Linked DNA regions of Homo sapiens: region 2 is linked to region 1. Evidence: fine-mapped expression QTL. A gene starts in region 1. The other region holds a variant in brackets. All regions are shown on one strand. Distances are from middle to middle. Region 1 holds the start of TMED10 (transmembrane p24 trafficking protein 10). Region 2 has its middle 49 kb from the start of FOS.

Evidence for each region.
Region 2: its variant is fine-mapped to the expression of TMED10 in whole blood (TOPMed, PIP above 0.99).

The regions. Positions count from the first base shown.
Region 1 is chr14:75,171,332-75,179,667 of GRCh38, forward strand. TMED10 (transmembrane p24 trafficking protein 10) reads right to left here and starts at 5,281. Exons shown (of 5, transcript NM_006827.6): 1 at 5,024-5,281. The coding sequence starts at 5,248. RefSeq lists enhancers at 5,105-5,677, 5,192-5,431.
Region 2 is chr14:75,225,555-75,233,890 of GRCh38, forward strand. No RefSeq gene overlaps it. Among named protein-coding and RNA genes, the nearest start is that of FOS, 49 kb to the right of the region's middle. RefSeq lists a cis regulatory region at 4,189-4,744. The variant A/G (reference allele first, on the strand shown) is at 4,794.

The DNA.
Region 1 (8,336 bases):
TGCCGTGGCACGATCTCGGCTCACTACAATCTCCGCCTCCCAGGTTCAAGCGATTCCCCTGCCTCAGTCTCCTGAGTAGCTGGGACTACAGGTGTGCACCACCATGCCCAGCTAATTTTTGTATGTTTGGTGAAGACGGGGTTTCACCATGTTGGCCAGGCTGGTCTCAAACTCCTAACCTTCAGTGATTTGCCCGCCTTGGCCTCCCAAAGCGTTGGGATTACAGACGAGAGCCACCGCGCCCAGCCTGGCTTTAAAGATGGAGGAAGGAGATATGAGCCAAAGAATACAAGTGGCTTCTAGAAGCTAGAAAGGGCAAGAAAACTGATCCCCACCCCACTCCCAAAAAGTCTCCAGAAGAAACATGGCTCTGCCAAAACCCTGATTTTAGGACTTCTGACCTTCAGAACGATTAAGACAAATCCCTGATGTTTTAGGCCATAAATCTGTGGTAATTTGTTACAGCAGCAATAGGACACTAAGACACACCTTAATCCACTTATCAATCTTAGCAGCAGCAATAAGGGGCACAAAAAGTACTGTGTGTTCCTGCAGTGACACCCTCGACAGAAAGATTAAACCTGAATCTGGTTACATCTTTTTTTTTTTTTTTACACTTTAAGTTCTGGAGGGGTACATGTGCAGAACGTGCAGGTTTGTTACATAGGTATACGTGTGCCATGGTGGTTTGCTGAACCTCTGGTTACATCTTTACAGCTGATTCCTTTTACAAAAAATATAGTGGAAGAACTGGTTAAAAGACACCTCTAGGAAGCAAAAGACAACTCCGAAATGCTGTACATTCTTTTAAGAGCAATTGACTCCAACAATTCAATTGCAAGGATAAAAAAGGAGGTGAGAGGAAGAGGAGACTGCTCTAGATTAGACACTTGAGAGAGACAACAAATTAACTTTCAAAAGATATTTTTGAGACAAGTGGGATCATACTATATGGACTGGGTATCAAGGAATCATTGTTCTTTTTTTTTTTTTGGAGACAGAGTCTCACTCTGTAGCCCAGGTAGGAGTGCAGTGGCACAATCATACTTCACTGCAACTTCCGCCTCCCAGGTTCAAGAGATTCTCCTGCCTCAGCCTAGAGCAGCTGGGATTACAGATGTGTGCCACCACGCCCAGCTAATTTTTTTTTAAATTTTTAGTAGAGACGGGGTTTCACCGTGTTGGTCAGGCTGGTCTCGAACTCCTGACCTCGTGATTCGCCCACCTCGGCCTCCCAAAGTGCTGGGATTACAGGCATGAGCCACCGCGCCTGGCCATCATTGTTCATTTTGTGAGGCGTGATTAGCCACGTAACATTGTGGTTTATATTTTTAAAGAGATGCATGCTGAAGTAGGCAGGAATGAAATACATGACATCTGGGATTTACTTTAATACAATTTAGCATGAAATGATATGGCAGAAGCAGTTAAGATGACACGTGTGGAAAGATCCTGATAATTGGTGAATATGAGTAATGGGTAGAAAGGTGAACTCACTATACTATTCCCTATAACACTGAAAACAAATCAATGCCCGAACCAATCTGAATTGGCTGGTGAAATTTTTTTTTTTTAATTTTTAGGGGGCCAAACCATTTTATTGAGGAAAATGGAGTGGCAAAGCAGTGGTGAGGACAATGAGATCCATGGCCCTCGGGTGGGCCGGGAGCTCCCAAGCTCTGCAGTGCTGAAACCTGGCTGATGAAATTTAAAAGTCTGGAGCTTTCACATCAAAATCTGGTGTTCCTATTTCATTTGAAAAATCAGATGTGGGCTAGGTGCAATGGCTCATGCCTGTAATCCGAGCACTTTGGGAGGCCGAGATGGGCGGATCACTTGAGCCCAGGAGTTCGAGACCAGCCTGGGTAACATGGCGAAACTCCATTTCTACAAACAAATATGAAAACTAGCCGGATATGGTGGCATGTGCCTGTAATCCCAGCTACTCAGGAGCCTGAAGTAGGAGGATCACCTGGGCCCTGAGGAGGTCAAGGCTGCAGTGAGCTGTGATGGTGCCACTGGAGGGAGGGAGGGAGAGAGGGAGGAAGAAAGGAAGGAAGGGAAGGAAGAGGGGAGGGGAGGGGAAGGGAAAAATCAGATGTGGCAAAAAGGCCCACATGCTTGCATGGCAAGTCTCATCAAGAACTAAGTATTGGTCACCCCTAATTAACAGTTTCTACTACGTCCAATTATTCTCCCATTTATCATCACTGCTTTTTTTTTTAAAATACCTGGTCCAATTTATTCAATGATATTACCTATTTGGCATTTGGGTTTAGGACCCTTGTGGTTCCATTAAGCTGGTTAGTAGCAAAAGAACAGAGCAGACACAGGAGAGCAACTGAGTGATAGTAAAGTGCTAGGGTGTGTGCACAAAGTCCTGCTGGTTTTTGTTTTGCTTTGTTTTGTTTTGTTTTGAGACCGAGTCTTGTTCTGTTGCCCAGGCTGGAGTGCAGTGGCACGGTGTCAGCTCACTGCAGCCACTGCCTCCCAGGTTCTAGTGATTCTCCTGCCTCAGCCTCCCGGGTAGCTGGGATTACAGGCACACGCCACCATGCCCAGCTAATTTTTGTATTTTTAGTAGAGACTGGATTTTAGCATGTTGCTGAGGCTGGTCTTGAACTCCTGACCTCAGGTGATCCACCCGCCTCGGCCTCCCAAAGAGTTAGGGTTACAGGCATGACCCACCAAGCCCGGCCTAAAGTCCTGCTGTTGAGGTGCCTTCAGCAGCCCTAAATTCAATGTAATTCCCATAAGGCCATGCTAAACTACAGTTCCTGTTATTTATAGAGTACTTACTAGAAGCAAGGTAACATGCTTGGCATTCTAGAAAAGATGAACCTGAAAATAGTTCCTACCCTGAGGATACTAACAGTCTAGTAAGTAGGTCAAGGCATAAACAAAAACAGTTCAGAAAATAAGTGAGTTCAGGGTACTGTCCAGGGTGGCTCCATGTAGAATGCAAAGTGGGAAGTGACCACACGTATAGCTCAGAAACAGATCATGAAGAGCACAACAAAGCATGTTGAGAAATTTAAACTATCAATAAGCAATAGTGAGCCACTGAAGGGCTTTAAAATATAAGAACAAATCAGACAGCAACACGAGATGAGAGCAAGGTCTCTTTCATTGCTGAAATTCCCTGAGTCCATGAACATCCTCTGAAGAGTTGGAAGCATGATCTCCCACCCCGGAAACACTATATCTAAGCTTCTAAAATCATGCCATCACTATTTTCCTGGGTAGAGAGTTTGATACCCAAACAGAATAATAAAATGATGGGTCACAGATTAATTGCCCTGAAAATAGTTTGTCTCTCCCAAATAAAGTAGAAATAAATTACATGTATTACCACACTACTGGGTTCCACTACTTTAACATAAGTTATGGTCTTATTATATCTGAAACCCTTTTAAAAAGTAAAAACGAGGCCAGGCGCGGTGGCTTACGGCTGTAATCCCAGCACTTTGGGAGGCCGAGGCGGGCAGATCACGAGGTCAAGAGATCAAGACCATCCTGGCCAACATGGTGAACCGTCATCTCTACTAAAATACAAAAATTAGCTGGGTGTGGTGGCTGGCGCCTGTAGTCCTAGCTACTCGGAAGGCTGAGGCAGGAGAATTGCTTGAAACCGGGAGGCAGAGGCTGCAGTGAGCCGAGATCGCGCCACAGCACTCCAGCCTGGACGACAGAGCAAGACTCCGTCTCAAAAAAAAAAAAAAAAAAAAAAAAAGTAAAAATGTTTCTATTTAGTATAACAAAAGCCCCATTGTGTTACAAAGAAAAAAAAAGACACTTTGCTTATTGTGAATGAATAAAATTACCTAAAATGCAACCAAATACTGACAGATATCAAATTATATTAATGTCTCAAAGACCAGGCCAGGCTACTCTTAGCTACAAAACAGAATCAAACTGGTATTATGGCAGTAGTTGTCACCATCCAAGAGCATAGTTGGTATTTACATAAAAGAGCCAAGTCCAGATTCTGGCATACCAAAGAAAAAGGACTAGAGACTGAGACCATTTTGTAACCAATAATCGACTTTAATCAACTACAGAAATTACAAATTTAAAACAAGGAAGGAATAAGGTTGCAGCGCTTTTCCCTCAACATACTTAACTACCAAACTAAGTAAGAATCTATTCCATCGCAAGGACAGAAAACCAAACACCGCATGTTCTCACTCATAGGTGGGAATTGAACAATGAGAACACTTGGACACAGGGTGGGGAACATCACACACCGGGGCCTGTCGTGGGGTGGGGGGAGGTGGGAGGGATAGCATTAGGAGACATACCTAATGTAAATGACGAGTTAATGGGTGCAGCACACCAACACGGCACATGTATACATATGTAACAAACCTGAAAGTTGTGCGCATGTACCCTAGAACTTAAAGTATAATAATAATTTTGAAAAAAAAAAAAGAATCTATTCCATCTGTGACACTTACTAGTTTATCCTACCTCTGAGTCTCAGTTTCCTCATTTGTAAAATGGGGCTAACAGTACCTACCTACTTCATAGGGTAGTGCATGAACCAAATGGTAATATATGCAAAGTAGCACAGTAACTGACACAGCAGATGCTCAATAAATAACATTTTATTAATCACGGTTAGCTCTGTCTCCTTTACTTTCCTGCAGGTATCGCGGTATCTTATGATGCCAATCCGTATAAATATTCAACACCCCAACATTTATTTGGAGAACCAAATTACGGTTCAATGTATCTGAGACCAAAACTGGTATAGGACGTTGACAACCGCCCCAGCTCAGGTGTCACCACATCCGCCAAAGCCTCGCAGCCCTTCTTGGGGTTCCCAGGCGTTGGTGACCCGCCCCGCCCCGCGACAGGCAACCAGCGGGGTGAGGGGGCGGGCTCCACCGCACGTCCTTTGCGCTCCCGGGAGGCCAGAACAACTCCCAGGCCTCCGCCGGCCCGACTCCCCCGAACCCGAGCCTCCCCTCGCCTAAGCCTGCCGTCTTCCCTCCCGGCCCCACGTCGCCCAATGCCGCACCTTGAGGTGGCTGCGCAGGCCGCCAGCGCCCCCAGACTGGTCGGAGATCTCGTACGCGCCAGTCACTAGCAGGTCCTTGTGAATCTCCTCACGGAGGCACTTGCGAGAGTTAATGGGCAGATGGAAGGAGATGGCAAGGACCAATCTGGGGCCGAGCAGGAACAAAAGCAGCAACGCTAACGGAAAAGGGCCGCGCCGGGCTGGTGGGCCAGACAAACCAGACATGGTGCTGGAGACTCGTTCACCACCGAAGGCCTCAACCGCGCCGGAACCGGGGGGACCCACGTGACTCACCTCTGACCTTCTGATGCCGTCCGCGCCATTTTGGAGACTGGCATGTAGAGAAAGACTCTATAGCGAATCTTTTGAAAAGGGAAGAAAGGATAGGTACCATGTCAAAACCGCAAGTTTAAGCAGTTAAAGAAGCTTTAATAGAATACTATTGCAACAGTTTTATTTTTGTTGAAGTTAGTGACTACTGAGTCGGCCATGGCAAGTATGGGCAGCCCTGGAAGTAATTCTCCTTTAATTTCCGAAAGATGTACCCACGAGTTTAAAGGCGAGTGACACCATAGCAACCAAGCCCCAATAGGAAACAGCCACAAGGCCCTTCGCTGGGCCCGCCCACCGGCCGCCTAGGCGCGAGGGCGGGGAATGAGGCTGTGTCTCCGGGGATGGGGCGGTTTGCAGGCACTCCCAAGCGCCTTTGACACCTTGATGACACCTGGGGCACTGAGACACTAGAGAGGAAAATTTCGAGGAAAGATTTCAACTTGGCTATTAGACAGTGTGGACCTTAGAGAAGAAGTTTTAGGGGTCACCTGATGAATGTGTGCCGGGCAGACATCCGGTTCATGTCCCATAGCAGGGTATTTGGGCTGGAGTAATTGTCTGGCTAACTGAATGTACATGGTATTATTATTATTATTATTATTATTATTATTATTATTATTTTAGCAAACATTGAATGTGTTCTAAGCTATATTCAAAATAAATTTGAATTTGGTATTTAAATTGAATAAAACAACATGTTTTGGTCCAGTCTCAGATGAACATAATTAAGGGGTTAGCAGATAAGCGTTGTCAGGGAAAGTGCGTATGTGTGTGTTTTAAGTTCACAAACACTTTAGGGATCAAATTAACTATTAACATTTGCAAATAGACAAGCAAATTGACACGGTAATAATTCATGCATTCATTCAATGGAGTACCTACTGTGTGCCAGACATTATGCTATGCATGTATGTCAACACGTTTATTGATTTAACAAACTATTACTGGGATACTAGCAAATATTCAGAGCTGAAGAATATATTAAAATAAACGGCCAGGCGCGGTGGCTCACACCTGTAATCCCAGCACTTTGGGAGGCTGAGGCGGGTGGATCACGAGGTCAGGAGTTCAAGACCAGCCTGGCCAAGATGGTGAAACCCCGTCTCTACTAAAAATACAAAAAAATTAGCTGGGCTTGGTGGCGGGCGCCTGTAATCCCAGCCACTCAGGAGGCTGAGGCAGAGAATTGCTTGAACCCGGGAGATGGAGGTTGCAGTGAGCTGAGATGGCGCCACTGCACTCCAGCCTGGGCGACGGAGTGAGACTTGTCTCAGAAAAGAAAGAAGGAAAGAAAGAAAATGGAATTGCTCCTTGGCCTTTTGGCTAACATCAAGTGTAGAAAATAAACGTGGAAGACACAATAGCCCATGTTGGGAATCATTACCTACTTTGATTAACGTTTATTGAGCATCTTCAGAAATATCCAGAAGATGGACTGTCTGCCCTTAGTAATGTACATGATTGGTGTTTTTTTTTTTTAAACTTAGTCCATTTAGTTATTTTCCTAGAAATGAAATCCCACAGACAAAACAAGAACAAACAAAGGAGCTGTAAAGCATTTAAAATTTTGACAAATGCCATACAATAATTATTTTATGAGGTGTCCACTTAGGAGCATTTAGTTGGATTGTTGTATCACTGATCTAAGATAAGATTGGTAGTCCACACAGTACATCCTGATAATTTGCATTGGCCTTTTCCCTGCCAATGCAGGGAATCAGTATAAGCAGTTATCTAATTCATTGTCTACTTGCATTCCTGAGGCTCTGCTGACCAATAGCAAGAGATCTCAACCCATGAAAAAACTGTGTATGTGTTTCCTTTAAATTTCCATCTTACATTTACATAATAGATAATGCAATTTAAAATATTTTCACATATCATAATGATCTCCTCTGACATTTTCAAAAACCCTGTGAAATAGTCTGGACAATCTGTTCATTTTACAGATGAGGAAACCGAGGTTCTGAGAGGCCAAATAATTATACTGTTAAAGAAAAAATACTTCATGACATTTGTTAAAGAACTGTAAAGCAGGCCAGAGGCGGTGGCTCACACCTGTACTCCTAGCACTTTGGGAGGCCAAGGCGGGCGGATAACTTGAGGTCAGGGGTTCGAAACCAGCCTGGCCAACATAATGAAATCTTATCTCTACTAAAAATACAAAAAATTAGCCGGGCATGGTGGTGGATACCTGTAATCCCAGCTACTTGGGAGGCTGAGACAGGAGAATTGCTTGAACCCAGGAGGTGGAGGTTGCAGTGAGCCAAGATCACACCATTGCCCTCCAGCCTGGACGACAGAGCGAGACTCCTTCTCAAAAAAAAAAAAAAAATTGTAAAGCAAATCTTTATTCAAGGGGGACTGCCAAGATAGGTAATACAAGGGCCTATGACAATGGGGTTTTGTAGTAGGAAGGAGAGATCGGGCTCAATTCCAAATACAAGGAAAAGTAGGGATTTACAGCCAAAAATCAGGGTCAGTGGATGGAAAATTACTAAAAGGAAATATTGGGAGTAAGGGGAGATTCTGGCTAAACTAACTTAGCAGGATTCTTCCTAAAATTGGACAATGCAGAGTCATGGAAGTCCAAAAGTCAGAGCCTATTGAGAAGACAGATCAGAACAGCGTGGGTAAAGTTTGGTCAAGGAGAGAATCTTTGTCAGTACCCCAAACCTCATAAGCTTAAAAGTGACAAAAGCAGTCTAGGGGCCTGAGCTATCCTCAGGAAGATGCTATTATTTCTTATTTTAAAGATGAAGAAACTCAGATGCACAGCAGTTACTTTTCTGTGTCACAGCTCTCAAGTCCTTTCTTTTCTTTTTTGAGATGGAGTCTGGCTCTGTTGCCCAGGCTAGAGCGCAGTGGTGCGATCTCAGCTCACCACAACCTGCCCCTCCTGGGTTCAAGTGATTCTCCTGCCTCAGCCTCCTGAGTAGCTGGGATTATAGGCGCGCACCACCATGCCCGGCTAATTTTT
Region 2 (8,336 bases), 54 kb after region 1:
TGCAGTGAGCCAAGAATGTGCCACTGCACTCCAGCCTGGGCAACAGAGTGAGACCCTGTCTCAAAAAAAAAAGAAAAAAAAAAGGCAGCTTATGATCAAGATGGGGAAAAGTATGTATATACAAATAACCATTTTGCTGAAGATTGCTGAGAGTGGTATAAATGGAGAAACTTGTTAGTGAATAAACATTTTTGAGCATCTGGTATGCCTAGGCACTGTGCTAAGCACTAGGGATAGAATGATAACAAGACACGCACAGGGCTGGGCATGGTGGCTCACACCTGTAATCCCAGCACTTTGGGAGGCCGAGGAGGGCGGATCACCTGAGGTTAGGAGTTCGAGACCAGCCTGGCCAACATGGTGAAACTCTATCTCTACTAAAAATACAAAAAAAATTAGCCAGGAGTGTGGTGCACGCCTGTAATCCTAGCTACTCAGCAGACTGAGGTGGGAGGATTGCTTGAGCCTGGGAGGCAGAAGGTGCAGTGAGCCGGATTTGTTCCACGGCACTCCAGCCTGGGTGACAGAGCGAGAATCTATCTCAAAAAATAAAAATAATAAAAAGTAGCCAGCTGCAGTGGCTCATGCCTGTAATCCCAGTACTTTGGGAGGCTGAGGCGGGCGGATCACCTGAGGTCAGGAGTTCGAGACCAGCCTGACCAGCATGGAGAAACCCCCGTCTCTACTAAAAATACAAAATTAGCTGGGTGTGCTGGCGCATGCCTGTAATCCCAGCTACTCAGGAGGCTGAGGCAGGAGAATCACTTGAACCTGTTAGACAGAGGTTGTGGTGAGCCGAGATCGCGTCATTGCACTCTGGCCTGCACAACAAGAGCGAAACTCCGTTTAAAATAATAATAATAATAATAATTAAAAAGATACACACAGTCTCTTCTTTCATGCAGTATAGAGTCCAGCAGAGCCGGGAGACACAACTGAATAAAAGGTCACACACAGAATGCCAATAGAGAGCGCTCACATGGTCTGGGGTCAGGAAAGTGAGGTGGGTGAAGGGTGAGCAGGACAGCCTTCCAGACAGAAGGAACAGCATGCACAATGGCTGAGCAGCATGGAACAGCCTGGCACATGTCAGGAGCCCAGAGAAGGCCAGCATTCTAGGGCAGACAGAGCAAAGAGGTGAGTGGGAAGAGAGAAGGTGAGACTAGTGAGTAGAAGCTAGACCGACCCCATAGGGATATAAAGGTCCTGTTCAACATTCGAGACTTGATCCTCCACTGCTTCAGGAGGATGCAGGAAGGATTCTTGAGGCAGATGGTCTAGGAACCAGGCCCTGAAGGTTGGTGAGAATTGCAACAGGGAAAGGTAGCCCCAAAAGGTATTCCAGGTGAAGGTAACAGAGTGAACTCTGATCCAGAGGGACAGAGTCCAAGGTGCTGAGGAAATAGAGTGGCCTGGCATGGGAGGAGCCTGGCAGGGGTGGTGCATGCAGGGGTGTAGGGGGCAATAAGCCTAGATAGCAAGGTCAGAGACAACACCAGACATGGCATGCTAAGGAGTTTGGACTTTATGCCACAGACAATGGGGAGCCACTGAAGATTTTTTGATTATTAGAGAGATAGGACCAGAGCTGGCCCTTAGGAAGGTTGGATTTGGTGGGGAAATCAGGCAGGAGAATACTATTTATTTATATGAGAGGCAACATGGGTTTGATTTTAATACTCAACAATGTAATGAGTGCATGGTACCTGCCAATACTGAAAACTGGAGGGGCAAAGAGAAAAAAGGGACTGCCCCTGTCCTGTCCCATGGAGCTCGTAGATGACTAAACTGACAATGATGATACAGTGTGATGTGGTAGTGATATGACCAGCATGTTATGGGTGCCCTTAAGAAAGGGGGCCACTGAGGCTGGGCACGGTGGCTCACACTTGTAATCCCAGCACTTTCGGAGGCCGAGGCAGGTGGATGGCTTAAGTCTAGGAGTTCAAGACCACCCTGGGCAACATGGTGAAACCCCGTCTCTACAAAACATTTACATATTTGCTGGGCATGGTGACACGTGCCTGTAGTCCTGGCTACTTGGGAGGCTGTCATGGGAGCATTGCTTGAGCCCGGGAGGTTGAGGCTGCAGTGAGTTGAGATCGTGCCACTGCACCTAGCCTGGGTGACAGAGCAAGACCTTGTCTCAAAAAAATAAAAGAAAGGGGGCCACTGAGGCTGGGCACGGTGGCTCATGCCTGTAATCCTAGCACTTGGGGAGGCTGAGGTGAGCAGATCACCTGAGGTCGGGAGTTCGAGACCAGCCTGACCAACATGGTGAAACCCTGTCTCTACTAAAATATACAAAAAATTAGCCAGGTGTGGTGGCATTTGCCTGTAATCCCAGCTACTCAGGAGGCTGAGGCAGGAGAATCGCTTGAACCCAGGAGGTGGAGGTTGCAGTGAGCTGAGATTGTGCCATTGCACTCCAGCCTGGGCAACAAGAGTGAAACTCCGTCTCAAAAAAATAAAAAAAGAAAAGAAAAGAAAAGAAAGGGGGCTACTGAACTCAGCCTGAAGTGGGGCAGCGGTCAGCAAAGTCTTGTGAATGAATGGTGAGTTACCAGGAAAAAGGGTGAAGAACAGTATTCCAGGCAGCAGCTGCACGTGTAAAAAGCATGGAGTGGTGAGAGCAGAGTGGCTCAGCCTGGGCTGAGGATGAGGAAGCCGGTGCTGTGACTACAGAGGAAGCCAGAAAGAAAGCAGGGGACAGACCACGAGGACTTTGCATGTCATACTAGTTTGTTTCTTATCATTAAAGCCATGGATCCCTCCTCCCTAAATGAATAATCCCACCTTTTTCCCTTTGTTCCCACAGTCCTGGGAGGAGGAGTAGCTGTTTCCTGCAGTTGCTGCCTCAGTGATACCTCAGTGTTCTCTTTGTCATTTCACTTTCCAAGTTGAAGTTAACAATTCTTTTTTGTTTTGGACCTAGTAAACAATTCTTTATCTTAAATTGACCCTGTTACAATGTGTTACAATAGCTGGTGTGATTTCAGTTCCCCGTCTGGACCTTGACTGAGAAAGGGCCCTTGAGAGGTTTTTGTTTTTGTTTTTGAGACAGTTTCACTCTTGTTGCCAGGCTGGAGTGCAATGGCACAATCTTGGCTCACTGCAACCTCCGCCTCCCGGATTCAAGCGATTCTCCTGCCTCAGCCTCCCGAGTAGCTGGGATTACAGGCATGCACCACCACGCTCGGATAATTTTTGTATTTTTAGTAGAGACGGAATTTCTCCATGTTGGTCAGGCTGGTCTCAATCTCCTGACCTCATGATCTGCCCGCCTCAGCCTCCCAAAGTGCTGGGATTACAGGCGTGAGCTATCGCTCCTGGCTGAGAGATTTTTAAGTAAGAGGAGGCGTGCCGTCAGATTTACATTTTAGAAAGTTGTCTCTAGGGGCAATGGTGGAGAACAACGACTAGAAGCAAGGAGCCCACTGAGGCCGTGGTTCCCGTGTTACAGGGGAGATACAGCGGCAGCCAGAATGCAGAGGTGGAAGGTAGATGGGAAGGAGGGGATACAGTCAAGAGATACTAAGGAAATAGAATTAACAGAAGAGGGAGATCAAGAGATTTGCTTATGCTTCTGGGTTTGCAGGACATGCCATTTACTGGGGCACAGAATATAGAAGAATTAGGTGTGTGTCAAGAAGATCCATCATTCTGTTTTGTACACGTTAAGTCTAAGAACCACCAGGTGGAAATGGAGGCAGCTGTGTATGCAGATGTGTGGGCAGAAGAGCCAGGCAGATGGATTCGGAACTCAGCAGGGTATGGCTGTGGTTGAGGTCATGCAGAGAGCATGGTGGGTGGGGGCACTGACGGCAGAATCTCCTAGAACCCCAACATTTAGGAGATGAGCTGAGAAACAGGAACCCTAGATTATCTGGAAGAGAAGCTTGGGAACTACGAAAGTGTTCAGAGGGAGGATCAGGCAGGGCACTTGTCAGAACAACTGCAGTCTGGGTACTCAAAGGAAGGAAACTTCTCAAAGGTGTGTGTTTCAGGCATGCAGATACATATGCATTTTTAAAGTCATTCCTTCTCTTAAGTTTGGAATATTGAGGAAAAACTCTTTCACATCAACCCTGGTGCCACCAGGCGACCTGGCCCAACCCTTCACTGTTGTCCAAGTGCGTCAGGAGAAGCCACCTGGCCGGAAGGAGCCAGGTGGAGCAGAGGGCAGCCAGTCTTATAGTCAATAGTCAGTGATAAGGCCAGATGTGTGGCAATATCAAATAATCAAGAACTGGCGTCATCCCCAGACAGCATGCTTAACTGTCTTCAGTGAGGAGACAAGGAAGGGGTGGAGGGGTGTCTCAGATGCCTGGGAGGGGAAATGGGAGGGAGCTCGCATTTGTGGAGTGGGCCAGGCCCTGTGCTAGGCTCTTTCCATGTTATCTCCACTAACCCTCCCAACAGCCATGCCTGTTTCAAAGATAAGACAGATGGGGCTCCAAGAGGTTAAATAATGTGCCTCAGGTAGTAACTGAGTGACCTAGGATTTGAACCTGGAAGGCCAAAGGCCATGCTGTCTCAAGGGAGCCCTTGGTCACCAGTTCAGTCAATCTCCCTGGTGAAGGTCCGTGTGCTGTAAGTTTGGGCATGGATACAAACCTTCCCATTGAAGCTTGATATGAGTGATGGCTCAGCGCCCAATCAGCAGCCAGATTAGGTGTTCTCCATGAGTGGTTTGGTGCTAGCACTTGCTTCCAAACCACACTTCCTGTTCATCTTTCACACCTATTGTCTCACTGCTGGGTTTCTTGCCAAATGCCTCCCTTGCCACTCCC[A/G]GTATGGGGGCAGAGTGACTAGGGAACAGCTTACAATGAGGAGTCTGTCAGACCTCCTTACTTTGCAGACGTCCTAAACACCTGATGAGCAACCACCAACTACTGAGGAGAGCCAATTTGCACCCAATTTTTGAGACCCTAAAAGACACTCTTTGAGCCTGATTACAGGTCAAATACTGGTAATAGCTAAAGGGTGGCTTTCTGTGTGCTGAGCCTTGAATTGTCTGCCTAACATGCATTGTTTCATATAATTCTTAAAATAACCCCATGAGGTGAGTGCGATTATTACACCCATTTTGCCTACAAGGAAGCAGGCTGAGAGAAAAGTGTCTACACCCAGTAAGCACCAGGAATGTCTGAATCAAAGGCAGGGAGAGGTGCCTGCCAAGCCCCGCACTTCCTTTCTCTCCCTTCCCCTAAGGCCTTTGGCTTAGATACGCTGATCCTTGAGAAATCCCTCCTCTCTCTTCCTTCCTTCCTTCCTTCCTTCCTTCCTTCCTTCCTTCCTTTCTTTTTTCTTCCTTTCTCTCGCTCTCTCTCTTCTTCTTTCTTTTTTTTTCTGGAGTCTCGCTCTGTTTCCCAGGCGTGATCTTGGCTCACTGCAACCTCCACCTCCAGGGTTCCAGCAATTCTCTTGCCTCAGCCTCCTTAGTGGCTGAGACTATAGGAGTGCGCCACCACGCCCAGCGAAGTTTTGTATTTTTAGTAGACATGGGGTTTCACCATGTTGGCTAGTATGGTCTTGATCTCTTGAGCTTGTGATCCACCTGCCTCAGACTCCCAAAGTGCTGGAATTACAGACACGAGCCACCGCGCCCGGCCTATTCAGGAGCTTTTACCCCATAAATCTTCTTACACATAGAAAAATAAAAAGTTCTGTCCCTTGTTACAGGTATTTTATATTATCAGTGGCGCCAATAAGGTGGGTGCATGTGTGTGCACACATGCGTGTATATGGGTGTGTGTGCACACCTGCATGTATATGGGTGTGTGTGCACACATGCATGTATGTGTCTGTGTGTGTGCATACACATATGTGGGGGTGGAGTAGGAATCAGGCAAATCAACCTCATAGACCTGTTCCCTGTTTCTGGGGTCATATATGGCTACAGTGACTATGTTTCTGAACCACAGGCCAGGCCACATGTCCTGGCCATTGCAATGGTTGTTGAGGGGATATTACAACAGTGAAACTGATACCTGCCCATGAGATACAGAGGCTGTTGGCTAACAGTTCAGCAGATACACTGTAGCGTGCTTTGGAGACATTCTAAAGGCCTCTGAGAGAGACAATGTCTTGCCAAGAGTTGAGGCCTGAAACTTGACAGCTGCCCACAGCCCATTTAAGGGTTAGTGTTACTCGACACAATTTTAAAGACATTGTCATGGAGGATCTGATATTCTCAGAACATTCAAGAGAAATGTTATAGCCTAAAACCAGAGGGGAAATCTGAAACCATATCTTCTTTTAGGGGCTACTATAGAATTCATTAAATTAATAATTAAATCTATGTATGTACATACAAAATGTTATGGACAACTGAGCCAGCCCTACACACACACAAGATGTCAGAAAGATTACCTCTGGCCGGGCACGGTGGCTCACACCTGTAATCCCAGCACTTTGGGAGGCCAAGCTGGGTGGAACATCTGAGGTCAGGAGTTCGAGACCAGCCTGGTAAACATGGTAAAACCCTGTCTCTACTAAAAATACAAAAATTAGCTGGGCGTGGTGACTCCCGCCTGTAGTCCCAGCTACTCGGGAGGCTGAGGCACTAGAATCGCTTGAACCCAGGAGGCAGAGGTTGCAGTGAGCTGAGATCACACCACTGCACACCAGCCTGGGCAACAGAGTGAGACTTGGTCTAAAAAAAAAGAAAAGAAAAGAAAGAAAAAGAAAAAGAAAAGATTACCTCTGTTAAAAATACTCAGGCAGTAGAGATAGCAGCCAATTTTGGGTTTGCATGACATTAATTCAACAAGCATGTATTACTTCCTACCTATTAGCTCCCAGATACTTGGTACCACGCCCAAAGAAGACTGGGCCTGGGATTGCAGTGACAGTAGGGTGGCAGATGTGTGGGGGATAAGTATGATATGGTGTAGGGAGGGTTATAATACTGATGAGTGCAATGTGCTACAGAATCCAGAAGATGAAGAATTCTTGGGAGGGGTGGTGGTATTAGTTTCCTACTACTATGTAATAAATTACTACAATTTAGCAGCTTAAAGCAACAACAATGTATTATCTCACAGTTTCCATGTGTCAGGGGTACAGGTATGGCTGAACCAAGTCCTCTGCTCAGGGTCTCACAAGCTGACAATCAAGGTGTCTGCCGGGTTGCATTTCTTTCTGGAGGTTGAGGTCCTCTTCCAGGCTCACGTGATTGTTGGCAGAATTTAGTTTCTTGCATCTGTATGATTGAGGCCTTTGTTGTCTTGGCAGCTGTCACCAGGGGCCACTCTTATCAACTAGAGGCTTCCCTCAAGTCTTTGTCACATGGCCCACTTCACACATCCTCTCATAAGGTGGCAGCTTTCTTCTTCAAGACTAGCAGGAAATTCTCTTTGACTTCAGGGAGGATCCTAGTCCCTTTTTGTTTTCAGGGTTTTATTATTTATTTATTTTGAGATAGAGTTTTGCTCTTGTTGCCCAGGCTGGAGTGCAATGGTATGATCTTGGCTTGCTCCAATCTCTACCTCCTGGGTTCAAGTGATTCTCCCATGTCAGTCTCCTGAGTAGCTGAGATTACAGGCATGTACCACCATGCCCAGCTAATTTTGTATTTTTAGTAGAGATGGGGTTTTACCATGTTGGCCAGGCTGGTCTCAAACTCCTGACCTGAGGTGATCCACCTGCCTCGGCCTCCCAAAGTGCTGGGATTACAGGCATGAGCCAGCGTGCCTGGCTATTTATTTATTTTTGAGACAGGGTTTCACTCTGTCACCCAGACTGGAGTGCAGTGATGCGATCACAGCTCACTGCAGCCTCGAACTCCTGGGCTTAGGCCATCCTCCCGCTCAGCCTCCCAAGTAGCTGGGACTACAGGCATATGCCACCATGCCTGGCTAATTAAAACAATTTTTTCTTTGTAGAGATGGGGGTCTTCCTATGCTGCCTCAGCTGTTCTACAACCCCTGGGCTCAAGAGGTCCTCTTGCCTCCCAAAGTGCTGGGTTATAGGCATAAGCCATCATGCCTGGCCCCTAGTCCCTTTTTGAAGGTCTCCCCTAATTAGGACAGACCTAGCCAGACTAAACTCCCTTTTGATTAACCCAAAATCAGCTGATTAGGGACCTTAATTACATCTGCAAAATCCTTTTTACCATAATCAAGAGAGTGACATCCCATCATATTCACAAATGCTGCCAACACTCAAGGAGAGGGGATTATGTAAGATGTGTATACCAGGAGACAGAAATCTTGGAGGCCATCTTAGAATTCTGCATACCATGTGCGAGACGGGGAGAGGGAAGGGAAGGGGAAAGTGCCAGGGTGGGTAACCTTTGAGCTGAGTACTGAAGAATGAATTTAAGTTCTCTA